Linked DNA regions of Homo sapiens: regions 2 and 3 are each linked to region 1. The links come from fine-mapping of genetic effects on gene expression. A gene starts in region 1. Each other region holds a variant in brackets. All regions are shown on one strand. Distances are between the middles of the regions.

Evidence for each region. PIP is the estimated chance that this variant, and not a neighbour inherited with it, causes the effect.
Region 2: its variant is the best candidate, but not a certain one, in a credible set for the expression of ZNF697 in prefrontal cortex (GTEx, PIP 0.53).
Region 3: its variant is the best candidate, but not a certain one, in a credible set for the expression of ZNF697 in prefrontal cortex (ROSMAP, PIP 0.65).

The regions. Positions count from the first base shown.
Region 1 is chr1:119,646,150-119,651,370 of GRCh38, forward strand. ZNF697 (zinc finger protein 697) reads right to left here and starts at 2,117. Exons shown (of 3, transcript NM_001080470.2): 1 at 1,542-2,117. It overlaps LOC124904389 (a long non-coding RNA gene), which reads left to right and starts at 2,167. Exons shown (of 2, transcript XR_007066506.1): 1 at 2,167-2,238; 2 at 2,575-2,827. RefSeq lists silencers at 1,534-1,697, 1,995-2,054 and enhancers at 2,113-2,953, 2,125-2,194.
Region 2 is chr1:119,621,513-119,626,733 of GRCh38, forward strand. It overlaps ZNF697 (zinc finger protein 697), which reads right to left. Exons shown (of 3, transcript NM_001080470.2): 2 at 4,363-4,625; 3 at 1-2,604. The coding sequence starts at 4,588. The coding sequence ends at 1,193. Among named protein-coding and RNA genes, the nearest start is that of ZNF697, 24 kb to the right of the region's middle. The variant G/C (reference allele first, on the strand shown) is at 2,318.
Region 3 is chr1:119,602,957-119,608,177 of GRCh38, forward strand. It overlaps the pseudogene HSD3BP5. Among named protein-coding and RNA genes, the nearest start is that of LINC00622, 6.3 kb to the left of the region's middle. RefSeq lists an enhancer at 1,757-2,956. The variant C/T (reference allele first, on the strand shown) is at 3,134.

The DNA of each region.
Region 1 (5,221 bases):
TACCCCTCTATCCCAGTAGTTCTGAAAAGCCATCTATGTGTTCCTTTGTGTAATGTAAAGGGCAGCCTGACTTCATATTTATGATCTTGTTCAATAGGATGCCATCTTATTCTCTGTTGGGCATGGCTGAACTTTTGACATCAACTTTCCCTTAACAACAACCCCCACTTCCAACACACACACACACACACACACACACACACACACACACACACGGCCAATATGTTCTAACTAGAAATCATCTAAATTCACAGAGCCTCTTCCCTTCACTTCATTATCCTCATGGCCTCATCCTAAACAACTCGGTTTTTTTTCTCGATTCCATTCTTTATCTCAGTTCAAATGCCTCATCTCTCCCAAAGAAGCTAAGGAAGAAATGTTTTGTTTCACCTCGAAAGCCATTTATATCAGGCTCAGGGCTCTCTCCATGTCCTACAGCATCATTCTTTCGACCATGAGCCTTGCATACTCCTGCCTGGCCATATAAGTGGCATTCTTAAAGGTTCATTTGGTTCCTCAAACGTATTCCACATTAAATAATATCCACATGTTGGCTTGTTGAGAGAAGAAGGTAAACAGTTGGGGGCATCAACAAAAAATCAGGTGAGGGGAGAAAGGAGAGATAGTGAGTGTGGCCCCTTAGGCATGCTGAGTTCAGTTACAACAGTCACACTTGGACTGTATTCAAAGTTGCCCACTCATCCACCACAGCTACTCAAAGACATTTAACTCGCTAGCCATTATCCAACCGCATTTACCAGACGCTCAGTCTTGAGGGAGGAGGGTAACGCAGTAGGGGATGCGGAGTATTGGTGTCATCCTACAGGTTAAGGACAAACATGCCCACTACAAGGACAGGGATACATCACCAACTTCAATTCAGCCCAGGGTTCATGTAGTAAGGGGTGGGTGATTCACTCCTGTGGGGGAGGCAGGGCGGGGGCGGTTGGGGGAGGCGGTTAGGAAAAAGGAAAATCGTGGAAAGTCCCAGAGGAAGTGGTAGTCAGTTCCCGATGCATGGCCATAATGTACATTGGCCATAAGGTACACTCAGCGCCTCTGTGTCGCTGCTCCCCCTCAACCTTTTACTCACCCACTCCTCCCAACACGCGCCTCACCCGTGCCTCCATGCACAATCCTGAGCCTCGGCATCCCCGCGAGGTGCAGGTTCCAGCTTTGCCCACCACCCCACCACCTACCTACATGGACACGTGTGGTTGGAATGCCTCCCGGGGCTAGACGGCCACCCCTCTTGGGCTGCGAGCTGCTGCCCATCTCTCCACCCACCCGTCCTTATTGTGTCATTTGCCCGGTCTGATGGCAGCCCCAAAGCCGCTCATTTGAGTGGGCTAGAATGGAGAAGAGAGGAAAAGGGAGGCACACATTTCATTCACTAGGACCCAAGATGACCTGCCGCCTCTCTCCTGCCCTTCTCGGAGCCCCCCACCCTCCCTTAGCCCCAGTGGGGCTGGAGGCACGAACAGACAAGGCAAGGGGAGCGCAGTCCGTCAAGGTCCACAGCTGCACACAAAGCCCTTCACCTTCTCCTTGCCTTCCAAGCTCCTCCCTGGGCTTGGTTTCTCCGAGGGTCTCTGATGCCCCCTTCGGTGGTCGGCGGGACGGTCCTATTCCCTCTTGCATCGCTGTCTCCTCCCTCAAGTCTCAGCCTCCTCCTCCCCGCCCCTCGCCACATACCCCTGAGGGAGCTCAGTCCTGGCTTTGGGGGCGCGAGAGCACCCCATAAGCCCGGGGCCCTGCGCCCCAGGGGAGCGGACAACGGTCCACTTTACGAGGCACAACTTCGCCCAGCCGTTCCGCCACCGCACTCGAACACACACCCCATCCCCGCAGCGGTCGGGTCTGGTCCCGATCAGCCCCATCCCCGGGAGGCGGTTGAGCCCAGCCACAGCCACGCTCCTACCTGCGAGGCGGCTGGCGCGGCGAGGAGCTAGGGCACCGAGCGCCCCGGCCCGAGCCCCGCACCGCAGCGCGTCTGCCCTTGTGCGGCGGCGGCGGCTGCAGCGGCCGCTGGGTGGCCCGCTGGCTGGCTGGTTGGCTGGCTGGCTGGCTGGCTGGCTGGCTGGCTCGCTGGCTGGCTGCCCGGCTGACTCCTCACTGGGGCTTCCTGTAGGGCTGGACAAAGGACATTTCCTGGGAGGAGCGGGAGAATGTTCCCAGCATGCCTCGATTTGTAGTTCCCGGGGACTTCCTGCCACCGCAGCAGCGGGCGCCCTGGAGGTAGCTCGGGCCAGGCTAGGACTCCGGGACAGGAGGAAAGGCGCTCGCTGCTTCTCTAAGCGCTGTGGGGAAGGGAGCGGCCGGCGGGTCTTGCCCCACGCCCCGCCCCGCGGCGCTCAAGGAGCCCGCTGTCCCGGAGCACGCGAGATCCCAGCGCTGCACTCCGAGCTCGCGGCACCGGTTGCGGGCAGCCGGTGGGACGCTGCCGCTGAGCTGTCCCATGGTTCGGGAGGGCTCTGCGGTGGGAGAGGCCTTTTCTTTAAAAACTGGGAAGTTTGTGGTGGGTTCGCTTTTTAAAAATTAATCTAAAAACACAAAATCTATCTTTTAAAATAGATTTTCTTTTTGTCTTTTACGCCGTTGACATCCTGCTGGGGGCCGATTAAAGAACTTGATTGCTCACCAGGAATTCAGGTTCCTTAAGATCTTGGCGCTTCATCTTTAAAACCATACAGAGCTGATTGTTTCCAGATCCCGACCCGGTGACATTCCTCCCTCATTGTTGACCTTGTCCCAAACATCTTTTCAAGAAAAGCAATTAAATTGAGATTGAAAATAAATTACGTAAATTAAATATTAGACGTGAAAACCTGTGTGCTGCTGAATTAGGAAAGTGCTGGACTTTCTGCGTATCTTTCCTTCATTAACCTTTAGGATTCAGCTTCTTGGTCCCATAAAACAGATGTGCTGGCCACTGTATATTGAGTGTGTGTATTTCGGGAGTGGAAGGGTGAGGAGAAGAGGACATTGGCTACAAGAGAGGAACTCTACTTCCAGCCTAGCAAGAGTCTATGATGCCCTGCACATGTTTTTGTCTATTTCTGGGACCACAGACTCAGGACCCTTAGAAAATCAAGGAAGGACCACATAGAGACTAAATGACTAAAAGCTATATTCTCTCCTGGAGCATGAGCAGAAAGTAATAAACTGAACTAGGAAAGGACAAGTTCTAGGATGCTCTAGAATGTGTTTGAAAAGTAATCAGATAGAAAAGTCTCTGGGAGGCCGGGCGCGGTGGCTCACGCCTGTAATCCCAGCACTTTGGGAGGCCGAGGCGGGCGTACTACGAGGTCAGGAGATGGAGACCATCCTGGCTAATACGGTGAAACCCCGTCTCTACTAAAAAAAAAAACACCAAAAATTAGCCGGGCGTGGTGGCGGGCACCTGTAGTCCCAGCTACTCGGGAGGCTGAGGCAGGAGACTGGAATGAACCTGGGAGGCAGACCTTGCAGTGAGCTGAGATCATGTCAGTGCACTCCAGCCTGGGCAACAAAGTGAGACTCCGTCTCAAAAAAAAAAAAGAAAGAAAGAAAGAAAAGTCTCTGGGCTTGGTGGCTCATGCCTGTAATCACAGCACTTTGGGAGGCCGAAGTGGGAGGGTCACTTGAGCCCAGGAGTTCAAGACCAGCCTGGGCAACACAGTGAGACCCTGTTTCTACGAAAAGTAAAATAAAATAAATAGCGGGTGTGGTGGCGCGTACCTGTAGTCCCAGCTACTCGGTCGTTTAAGTGGAAGGGTCGTTTGAGACTGGGAGTTTGAGGCTGCAGTGAACCGTGATTGCACTCCAGCCTGGGTGACAGATTGAGACTCTGTTTCAAAAAATAAGGTCATAATTACGTGTCACTTCCACTTGTCATTTCACATTTTAAATCCATATGATTAAAACATTTGGGTGAAGGGTTTAGCTTACATTTAAGTAAAGTTTATGCTAGAGTTCTCTTTCTCTAGAGATCCTTAACCTCACGGATAAGATGGCCTGGATTAAAATGTAGAATTGATGAGAAGCATGCAGATAGGACTGTTCACCTCCCAAAAGTTCCTGTTGTATGCCCACCCTAAAGGTCCTGCTGTATGCCCACTCTGTTGACTGTCCACCTAAATTAATTGTGCTGTGATCCTTGCATTTTCTGGACCCTACAAATTACTGCTCCTTCATATTCTCAACCTGGTAACATTCCAGTGAAACTAATCTCCCCATCTCCACCCCAAAGAATTGATTATTGTTTTGCAAATCAAGTAGCCTCTAATAGTGTTCAGTCTGAAAAACATGATATACTTGCTTGTAGCATTTAACATATAACATTGCCCATTGAAACTATTTTTTGCCTTGCTTTTAATACAACACACTCTCCTCCTTCTCCTACACTTCTAACTTGAGCTCAGAATAATTGAACTTTCACTCATTATTTCACGCCATTCCAAACCTGTCCCATCCTTTTGTTTCCAATCTCAGTTATTTTGTTACTTCAACAAAGTTTTGTTTAACATTTATTCATGCTAGTCTCCATGTCTGGAGTAGACATGTAACATTCAACAGTAAGATATTTTACTGAGTAACTACCAGCTATGTCTTACCCCCAAGAAGCCCACACTCCAGTTGAAAAGACAGATGTCACAAAATTACTTCACAGTGTTTAAGGGCTATAATGCTGCCTTATACTGGGGTTCGTGTTCTGTAAAAGTGGGGCTCTTTCCATAAGCCTTCTGTTCCAGTGAGTGGCAGGAGTGGACAGGAGTGGCCAGAGGAAGGCTTGGGAGGGAGGAAATACAGACGGTAAAGAAGACATGTAGTATGTGAAATTTGGTTCTGAACAGGGTGGTAGCTGAGAAGGAAGTCGGATCAAAGGACATTCTTCTGTTTGTAGGGGTTTTATTTGTTCGGTTTTTAAGATGAGAGAGCCTTGAGGATGTTTAAATGCTGATGAGAAAAGTCTTGGAGAGAAACAAAGGGTAACAAAGAGGAACGAAAGAGGATAAGGGATTCTTATTCAACAAATACTTGTTGAATTAACTAATTCCTGCAACTTAGTGTTGAAAATGTTGAGATTGAAATGACCAAACTGCATATTCCCAGCTAAGATACGCAGAGTCTGAGACCAGAAGGAAATGGCATTTCTTTCCTCCTTGTCATATGCTCTCTCCTGCCCTTGAGGCCCTCAGGGGAAGGTGACAGACAAGTGAATGAAAGGAGAGAATGGAGG
Region 2 (5,221 bases), 25 kb before region 1:
CCTGACTGGGCTCTTCTGGGTAAAGCCTTGAGATTTCTACTGTGCCTCCACGCGCAGGCAAAAGACATTCTTACTTAGACTAGATCCCTCGTCAATATGCATGGAAGTGGGGGTTAGTGGAGGTCACTAACAAATGCAAAGTGAAGGCAAATGAGACCAAGGAGTCTCGCATCCCAAAAAAGTGAACACTTTCTTGGATTTCTCACATAAAGGCCAGCAAAACTCTGAGCTAGTTGACTTTTTAGCAGGTCACTGGGCAACTGTTGGTCTAAAGTTCACTTGAAACACCTACATCAAGGTGAGGTGGGAAAAGGAAAGTCACACATAGCTGTGATTGTTCCTTTTCCCTGCACTTAAAACACCACAGTTGAGACCTGAAAGAAATACTGGGTGTGGCACACACCTGGGATGGGCGAGGGCGGGGGAGGGGGGTCATCCAGGTAAACCACCTTGACCCAGCATGAAGCTAGAGTATTTTCAAGGAAGTAGCAAAGAACCCGGGACAGAATCAGGATTTCCCACATCAGAGAACCAGTTATAAATGAATTTCTAAACCCCAGACATTGCCCCTTGAAATGAGTGTGGCGTTTTTCAGCCCACTTCCCCTTGGATGCCTCAAAATAGCAGCTAACTGTGGCTCAGAGAAAGGAAAAGTACATTAAATATCCTGTCCTATGTGACTGACAAGGTTCCCCTACTTTTTGTGAGACAACAGGTGATGTGTGGAGATCGGGCAAACTCTTGGTGGGACCAAGATAGAATCACTTATACTTGGTTTTATTTCGCCCCATAACCCTCATTTAAACCCTCTCCCCGCAACCTTCTACAGGCCATCGCGGCCTACCCTAGTCTATTGCCCGCCATCCTGTTCCCACCCCAGCCCACGAACTGCCCTTCCTCAAAGTGCCTGGTCCTCCAAGCTCTTCACCCCCTACAGCGTGTATTTAAGGAAGTCATCACCCCAAGCGCATCTCCTGAACAATTCTTCCGTGGAGAGGAGGCAAGTATAGCACCGGGAAAGACCAACTTACTCAACACTCCTCCCACTTCAGGAAACCCCAAACACCAAAGGCTCCCCAGTCACTCTCAGATTGTCCCTCCCGCCCCTTCCCCACTTCCTTCCCCTGGGTCAGTCCCAGGATATCTACCCCCCACAGGCTCCCCAGACGGCAGCCTCCCGCGGACCCAGCCCCTAACACAGGTGCAGCTTCTGGTGCTGCGCGAGGTGCGTTTTATAGCGGAAGCCTTTGCCGCAGCCCGCACACTTGTGCGGCTTGTTGCCCGTGTGGATGCGGCGGTGGCGGATCAGGTGGGAGCTCTGGATAAAGCTCTTGCCGCACTCGATGCACGTGTAGGGCTTCTCGCCCGTGTGCGTGCGCTGGTGCTGCGTGAGCGTGGAGAAGTCGCTGAAGCGCTTCTCGCACTGGCCACAGCGGAAGGGCTTCTCGCCGGTGTGCACGCGCAGGTGGTTCACCAGGTGCGAGTTACGCCCGAAGCCCTTCCCGCACTCGCGGCACACGTAGGGCCGCTCACCCGAGTGCGTGCGCTTGTGCGTGAAGAGGTGCGAGCTGACGCTGAAGGTCTCGCCGCACTCGGAGCACATGTAGGGCTTCTCGCCCGTGTGCACGCGCTGGTGCTTCACCAAGTCCGAGCGCCAGCTGAAGCGCTTGCCGCACTCGCCACAGCCGTGCGGCTTCTCGCCCGTGTGGATGCGCTGGTGGTTGGCCAGGTGCGAACGGCGCACGAAGCCCTTGCCGCACTCCCCGCAGGCGAAGGGCCGCAGCGCCGCCGCCCCCGCGCCGCTGGCCGCCGCGTGCGCGCGCCGGTGGCTCAACAGATGCGAGCTGAGGCTGAAGGCCTCGCCGCACTCGGGGCACGGGTAGGGCTTCTCGCCCGTGTGCAGGCGCCGGTGCTTGAGCAGGTCGGCGCGCCAGCTGAAGCTCTTGCCGCAGTCGGCGCACAGGTTGGGCCGCTCGCCCGTGTGCAGGCGCAGGTGGTTGGTCAGGTAGGTGTTGCGGCTGAAGCCCTTGCCGCACTCCCCGCAGCGGAAGGGCTTTTCGCGCGGGGGCCGGGCCAGCGGGGGCCCGGCCCCGAAGCCCCCCGCCACACCCACCCCCATCATGCCCACCATCGCGTCGCACTCGCCCGCCAGGCCGAAGGGCTCCAGGCTGGCGGCGGCAGCGGCCTCAGCCAGGCGGTGAATGCGCTGGTGCTGCAGGAAGGCGGCGCCAGGACTGAAGCTCTCCCCGCAGTCGGGGCAGATGGTGGGCGCGTCCATGATGCTGGCCACCAGGCTATCCAGCTCCCCGAGGTCCAC[G/C]GCCATGGGGTGGTGGAGCCGGTGGAAGCGGCGGTGGGCGGGCTTGTCACCTCGGTGCCGACTCCCCAGGGAGAGATGTCGCCTCCAGGGAAGTACGGGAGGGGCCGGCTGCTCCTCTTCCTCCTCCAGCCGGTTCTCCCCAGCACTCTCGTCGTCGTCCTCCCGGAGGCTCCGGGATATGCTGTCAGACTCAGACAGTCCTGGGAACATCGCCATGTCAGCTACACCGGATTGGTCATCCTCTTCCCCACGGACAGAAACGCCTTCTTCCTCACTCAGCTGCCCCTCTGCAACAGAAAAAGGTGGCAGTGGGGGATTACTATACTTGGCATTCAAAAGATAAGCCCAGAGGAAACCTCAGTAATAAAACTGTGATCCCCTCCCTCAGGCACTCTGGATCCCTGCCCCTCCAAGACCCCCTGAGAGTTTAGCCTCTCTCAACTGGATCCTCCAGGGAAAGGCCTAAAGGAGAGTGCACTCATTGCCCCCTCTGCCCACCAGTTCTTCAGGCAGCCTCCTCGGGCCCAGGCCCCCCTAGCTGGACCCGAGGCACTGCCTAGCAGAGCCATCTGAAGGCCTGACTGCCTGTGTTCAGGATATTCAAGTCTGTGCCAGGTGGGACACTACGTAAGATCTCAGGAGAAAAGGTTTACTCACTCCAAGAGCTACCAATGCCTTTTAAGATTCTAGTCTCAAAAGACAAGAACAGTCTGCCAACCTGAGAAAGACCACTTGGCCTAACCAGGCCCTGGACTAATTTTTTCTTTTTCTCTTTTTATTTTTGAGACAGAGTCTTGCTCTGTCGTCCAGGCTGGAGTGCAGTGGCGCAATCTTGGCTCACTGCAACCTCCGCCTCCTGGGTTCAAGCGATTCTCCTGTCTCAGCCTCCTGAGTAGCTGGGATTACAGGCTCATGCCACCACGCCCAGCTAACTTGTATTTTTAGTAGACATGGGGTTTCACCATGTTGGTCGGGCTGGTCTCGATCTCCTGACCTCGTTTTCTGCCCACCTCGGCTCCCAAAGAGCTGGGATTACAGGCATGAGCCACTGCGCCCAGCCCTCAGGACTAATTTTTAAAGTACATTTGGTCAGTCTGAAACAGCTTATGATGGAACAAAAAACTGAACTCACCTTCAGGACTTTGCTATGGGTGGGGGGAGGGGGATAGTAGTGGGGAATAGAGAAAGAGATTACAGAGCCTAGAGCTGGTGAGCCCAGGTTAGAGGCTGATCCAGGACACACACCTGTTGGTCTCTGGCTGCGTATCCCCAAGCAGAGGGAAGTTGCTGAGATGTGAAAGGCCTCACATGTGCCCTCCTGCACATGCTTCTGTGCACTGCGGAGGAGGGCAGCAGGGAGTCTGGGACTGTGTCACAGGGGAAGGAATGTAACCTCTCAGTCCTGGCCATAAAGTATTTTAGCTCATTTCTGTCCCCAGAGCATGCACTGAGCAGGATAAAGTAATGAATGCCCAAAGACAGAAACAAGGAGGTGGGTGGAGGCCCAGCATTCACTCTTTCAGGTCAGTAAGAGTAAGGCATTTAGCAGAGGCCATGGGCACTTTGGGAATTAGCCACATGAACCTAGGCAGGTCACTTACCAGTGAGATGACTTATCTGCAAAGGGAGATGAGGACGTAACTGTAAACATCTGGATACCTCCTATTTGCACAGTACTGTGCTTAGTAACTCTATATGCAGCAACTCATTTAACTCTCCCAATAACACTGTGAGGTAGATTCTATTACTAGCTGGGTAATTCTACTGTAGTGTTGTTCCAGGGGTTAATTTATAGCAGCATTCTCTACACTGTAAAAAGTACTGCGCCAGTGAGTGAGCCTCTTCACAGCTCACCTCAGACTGGGCTGAAAAAAAGGATGGTCTTCAGGCTAACACAAGAGAGGCAAGTCAGTACAGAATCCTGCTTAATGGTCCCCTCTATGGAACTCCCTTACAGAGAATGCTGTCGCTAGTTATGATTCTAGAGGAGCTAGAAGTAAGTGTAACTTTGGCAACTTGCATAGAAATCCCAGCTTTCTCCTCACCTGTGCAGATGTCGGGCACTGCTTCCCTGTGCCTTGAGTCCTGTGGGTTGGAGCCCATCTCCGGCTCCGGATGGCCTTCTCTCTTGTTTGTGTCATGTGGATTAGAGCCCATTTCTCTTTCTTCTGGGTCCCCTTCCCTGTCCTCAGAGTCCTCAAAATCAGAACCCATCCCTTTGTCTTCTGAGTCCTGGTGTGCACAGACACCCTGATTATCTTCTTGTTTCATCCAGGAAGAAAAGAGCAAGGGAGGTGACCAGGAATCCCTGCTCCAGAAAAACACAAAGAAAGGTCACGTCAGTCCGGTCTCATCCCCTCACCACGCCCAGCCTTAATTTCCAATTCTAATAAAATGTATGGAGTTCCAAGCCCCAGATGGCAAACCTCCACTTCACTCCACATTTTAAAGTAAACAAGTGAGTGCAAAGGAGGGTGGACTGGGTGGCAGAAGAACAGTGACAACCTCACTATGAGGTTGGATGCCAACTCTCACTGGACCAAATCTTGATCTTCTGGCTATGATATGGATGTCTATTAGTGTGGTTTTATAGTTTAACAGTGAACTAGATGTTCCCATTTTTACAGCTGAGAAAACTTGAAACTCAAAAAGAAGAGGCCACTAGCCCAAGGCTACATAAACTTATAAGCAGTAGAGTGGGGATTAAGCAATTGGGCTGCCTCAAAGTTCCATGCTTTTCATACTCTTATTAAGCTTGCTCGCCTCCAGCCCACAGCAACCTTGCAAGTATTTTGGTTATCGTGCAAGTATTTTGGCTAATTTAAGGAGCCAGAGGAAAAGTACATCAAGACACAAGAATAATAGAAGCATCAAGTATAGTAACTTCTTGTCTAAGACCATGTC
Region 3 (5,221 bases), 43 kb before region 1:
ACTGTGCTACATGTTTTGCATGTGCTGACTCATTTGTTACTCATAGCAACCCTATGAGATTGTTAATATTATTATCCTCCTTTCTCACAGATTAGGAGACAGACATAGAGAGGTTAATTAACTCGTTGAAAGTCTCAGAGTTAGAATATGGCAAAGCTGGATTTGAACCCAGACAGTCTAGTGCGGCATCTGTGCTCTTAAGCAGTAGTTCACCTAGCAGCTTGGGGAATGAGGGAGCTATGGCTCCATCCACAAAGTCCCCTTTCCTGGTCTCTAGATCCCTGTGAACTCATTAAGGAAAAGCCTTTTCTCTTGGCTTTAGACTTCTTCAGCTTTGAAATGGCAATTCCTTTGAGCCAGTCTGTCTGAAGTTGGCAGCAAAGGGGAAGCAGAGGAAGGGAGCAGGAAGTGCAGAGGTGGAAATACAACCAGAGAAAATTCCACTCTCAGGCTGTCACCCATGTCCTCCCCAGCAGCCTCTTCCCTGCCTCCCCCATAGCATGGCCTTCTTGGAGTTGCCTGGCAATAGGAAGGGGCTGGGAGTAGACAAAACATGGCAGAGGCATTAGGAGAGGAAGTGGTCCCGCCTGTATCCCAGGAAGGAATTGCTCCGGTCTTGAATTTTTCGCTCTGAATTTTACTCTCACTGTTCTTTGGCCTTTGTTGCCAATTTCAGTTGAACTGGCTTATTCTTACTCTTTCTCAGAAAAGTTTATTCTAAACAGCCAGTCCTGTACCTGGTGTGCAGGGTACGAGGCTTGGAGGTGGAGTGGGCAAGTTTGAGCCTCTACTAGAAACGCGACCTTTGATCTGTCCCTTAACCTCTCTGAACCTCAGTTTCCTCACCAGTAAAGTGGGACTCAGAAAACCTATCTCATGAGATTGCTGTAAAAGGAAATAAGCAAGCTGTGAGTCATATGCAGATTATAAAGCACAAACAAGTGTAGTGTATTTATCCAAGCTTCATGTACCACAGTGTTCATTGCGTGGGCTAATTCCAGGTGACAACTTTACTGGCAGCATCACTTCTTGTGGATTTCAGAGGAGCGTGAAGACATTAAAGTTTTAACCACTGCCCTCAGCTAGACAGCTGGAATATCAGTTCATTGGTCGCTAACTTTCAGCATTGCTATCTGCTTTTCAAATCTGATGAGTTTTTCATGGAAATTCCTCATTTAAGCCCATCAGCAATTCCCTAGTAATGGCTCCACTCTCCTCCCAATTGCCCAAGGAGGAAACCATAGGGGTGATTTTGTCTTCTTTTTCTCTCAGCCCAGATCCAGTAGGTATCAGGACCTTCAAGGTAAGGTCTGAAATTCAAACCTGTTTTATCTCTCCCCTGCTCTGCTTCCACTGCTGGACCCTGCTTCCAGTCCTCATCGAAACTTTGGCACAGATACTCTGATTAATATCTTAATTACCTTACTTTCTCATATCCCCTATACCAGTCCATTTTATATCCTCAAGCCAATGTTGACTTCCTACATTACAATTCTGCTTCTGTTTCTCTGTCTCTCTTTTTTTATTAACAGGGTTTGGCTGTGCCACCAAGGCTGGAGTGCAGAGGTATGATCTCTGCTCACTGCCACCTTCACCTCCTGGGCCCCATTCATCCTCCTGCTTCAGCCTCCCGAACAGCTGGGACTATGGGCAAGCACCACTACGCCTGGCTAATTTTTGTGTTTTTAGTAGAGACGGGGTTTCACGAGGCTGTCCAGGCTGGTCTTGACCTCCTGGGTGCAAGCAATCTGCCCACCTCAGCCTCCCAAAGTGCTGGAATTACAGGTGTCAGCCACCATGCTCTGCCTGTTTCTCTACTTATTCCAAATATAAATAAGGGATTTTCTTTGACATGGTGCTGGAGACCCAAAATCATGATCCCGCATCACCAGCAGAATTAAATTCAAATTTTCCCTCTTATACCCAACTCTCCACAGTCACCTTACTCTCTTTAAATATTTTAGTGAGTCTCCCATGACTCTAGAAATGCTTATATTCCAAGCACACCTGACAGCTCATTGCTCAGATTACTTTTCTTAAATGAGATGGGGTAGAAACAGATGTTTGCTCTTTCCCAATAAATTGCTACATATTCTGACTTCTGTGTCCCTGTTTACTTGTTCCTTCCATGGAATGTACACCCTCCACTCCAACACCCTGACTCTAGCCATCCTCGAACATCTATGTAACAACATCTTTATCAGTTTCAGAAATCGTTTCAGAAATCGTTCTGATAACCTGACCGGTGTTCACACAGAGCTCCAGAACAAGACCAAGCTGACGGTGCTGGAAGGAGACATTCTGGATGAGTCATGCCTGAAGAGAGCCTGCCAGGACATGTCGGTCATCATCCACACCACCTCCATCATAGACATCATCGGTGTCACTCACAGAGAGTCCATCATGAACATCAATGTGAAACGTACAGTAGCCTGGGGAGGAGATGAAGCAAGGTGGGGAATTAAGGATCACAAAGAAGGACAGGAAGGGAAAAGAAGTCTCTCCACTGAACACCTGCTATGCTCTGGACCAAGTGTCTTTGCTGATCACTACCAACTGGGGGAGTTCAAAGCTGCTATCTTCAGTTTTTTACATGAGGAAACCAGTGCTACAGATGGCAAGTAACTTGTCCAAGGCCCCCCCAGGTAAGTAAGTAAATAGGAGAGTTAGACTTTAAACTCACCCCTGTGTGACTCCAAAGGCTGTGGACACTCTTTCTATAGTGGCTTCAATCAAAAGTCAACTAAATTCCAACTTCAGACTCTTGATATCCCTCTATGGGACAGAATCAAACCTTCCAGGTGCCACCATAGTCATCATTGTGCTACACACAAGTCACCTTGTGCGTAGGCTTATGATAATGAAATGGGAAAAATTCCCTCATCCCCCTCACCAGGCATGCAATGAGGGTGTGGCTTGCTTCTTCAATGCCTCACTGCTCAAACCTCTGTGGGAGCATAGAGACAGGCAGGCTGTGGGACTCCGACACCATAGCAGTGTCTGGGGTGAATGTTTACAGCTCCTGAAGCCTCAGTGGGTGTGTGTTACATGGTGCTCTTTTAGTCTTGCTCTTTTAGTTTTGACATCTACAGGCGGCTTGTTTTAACCAGCTAAATTAGACCCTCTACCTTGT[C/T]GGAAGGTCAGAGGGCTTTCTGTATCCTGGGTTCTTGTTTTGGTTACCAGAGAAATTAGATCACACCTGGGCTTGGAGAATGAGTGCCAGGTTTTGTTGAGTGAAGGTAGCTCTCAGCAGCTGGGGGATGCCAGAAGGGGAGGGTTTTCCCATGGAGTTGGCCGTTCAACTGCCCAACTCTTCTCCGACCATCCCAGGGAAACTCCACATCATTCTGCTGGGCGGTGTGTTCCTCCCAACGTCCAGCTGCCCATGTGTTCCTCTGCTGATGTGTGCCTCCACTGATGTGCCCCTCCTGACATCCAGCCCCTTCTATCTTCTTCTGCCAATCTGCTCCTCTCATTGTCAGGCAGTTTGTGTGTGTCCTGCTAGGGTCTTGGGGGTTTTATAGGCAGAGAATTGGGGCATGGCAGGCCAGGGTGGTCTTGGGAAATGCAACATTTGGGCAGAAAATGTTTGTCCTCATCTAGGTCCCTGGGAGTAGAGCCATAGCCAGGGACCACACCCTCCTTCACCCAGCACTTCCCTTCCCCCCTCCCATATCATTTAAAGGGACCATGCTCTTCCCTTCCCAGCACTCCCATATCAAGAACATTCAGAGCCCTCCTGCCCACCTCAAAGAAGTTCTCTCGAGAGAATTAGTAAAGTTGGTCCACAGAGGTCTGTCAGGACTGAATTATCCAGCACATGCTTTCTCACAATATTTTCTTAAGAAAAAGGGTTTCCCAGTGTCCAGAATACACAGTCTCTTCAGCTCGCCACAGGGCCTGCTATTACAGAGCCATTCCCAGCCAGGTGTCCAACATGCACCTTCATTCAATCCTCATCCCTTAAAGTCTTGGTGGTCTTTCCGAATTGCAGCTTTCCAAACTACTTTAAATTCAGACACATTCCCTTAAGGAATCTCGTCATGCAGTCTCACCCTCTGATTCCCAGAGCCCAGTCTCTTCAGCACCACAGCACCCCACCACTGGCCTAGCCCTCCACATTCAGTCTACTCTGACACCTTTTCTAAAGCAACTAATTGCTTTTGGGTCTCCAGCACCATCTCAAAAAAAAAAAACCTTTCCAGTTTCTACTTACGCATACCTTTAAGTACCTCTACAGTGTGAGGAGGGTGTTAAGAGTAACCAGTGTTTCATTTGAATTATTAACTCTCCACAGCTCCCAACAACAAGAAAGGTAAAATGACAGGGGAAGTGTTAGAGGCATCTGTTTCCTAAACCATTATCACTCCAAGACTTAGAAAATATTTCACAATGTTGGTCATTTCCCCCTTGAAGGTAAACTACTTCCGCATTTTCTCTGCCACCAGATTAATTGTTGAAAACATGAGGCTGTCTCTCCAGAAACTCAAATTCCACAGAGACTTTAAACAGGGCCAAGAATAAAAAAAAATAAGAAAAAATAATAATCCTTTGCCTAGGAAATTCCTTCCTTCTTCAAGGGAAGGCACTCCGAACACCTCCATGAGCTACACTTCCACACAGCTCAGGGGAGGCGGCAAGGTCCTCCCAGTACAGGTGTTACCAGCAGAGGGCACACTCCTCTCCCCAGTCCTCCACCAGGCTCCACAGGAAACGCCAGGGCAGGGTTTAAAGGAAGGTTTATCACCCCGACTTTACATAACCAGGTAAACAGAGTCACAGCCAGAATTGGAAGCAGCTTTCCCAGGGAATGCACAATCAGGAAAAGAGTGTGGGTTTCCAGCATCTCCCCACAAGCCACTGTTCGCTCAATGACTCCAGGAATGGTCCTGGTGACAAAGTTTTACCAGTCCACTCAAAATGAGAAAAATACCAGCAATTGCATGTATATTCAACAGTATATTTAAGAGTGTATATTGCTTATATACAACTGTATATGGGTGTCTGTGTGTGTGATGTAAATTCTTCTACTGCCCTTTTTTGCCAAAGAACCAGGACTGTCCATATTCTCAGAGTATATCTTCCTGATTTTTTAGTTTTTCAATAATCTGCCTTTAATGGTATTGATGTCACATTATAATTTTCAACATCCTTACTTGGCAAAATATAAAGTGATAACCCTAGGTCCTTTGCCAAAATTAAACTACACACACACACACAC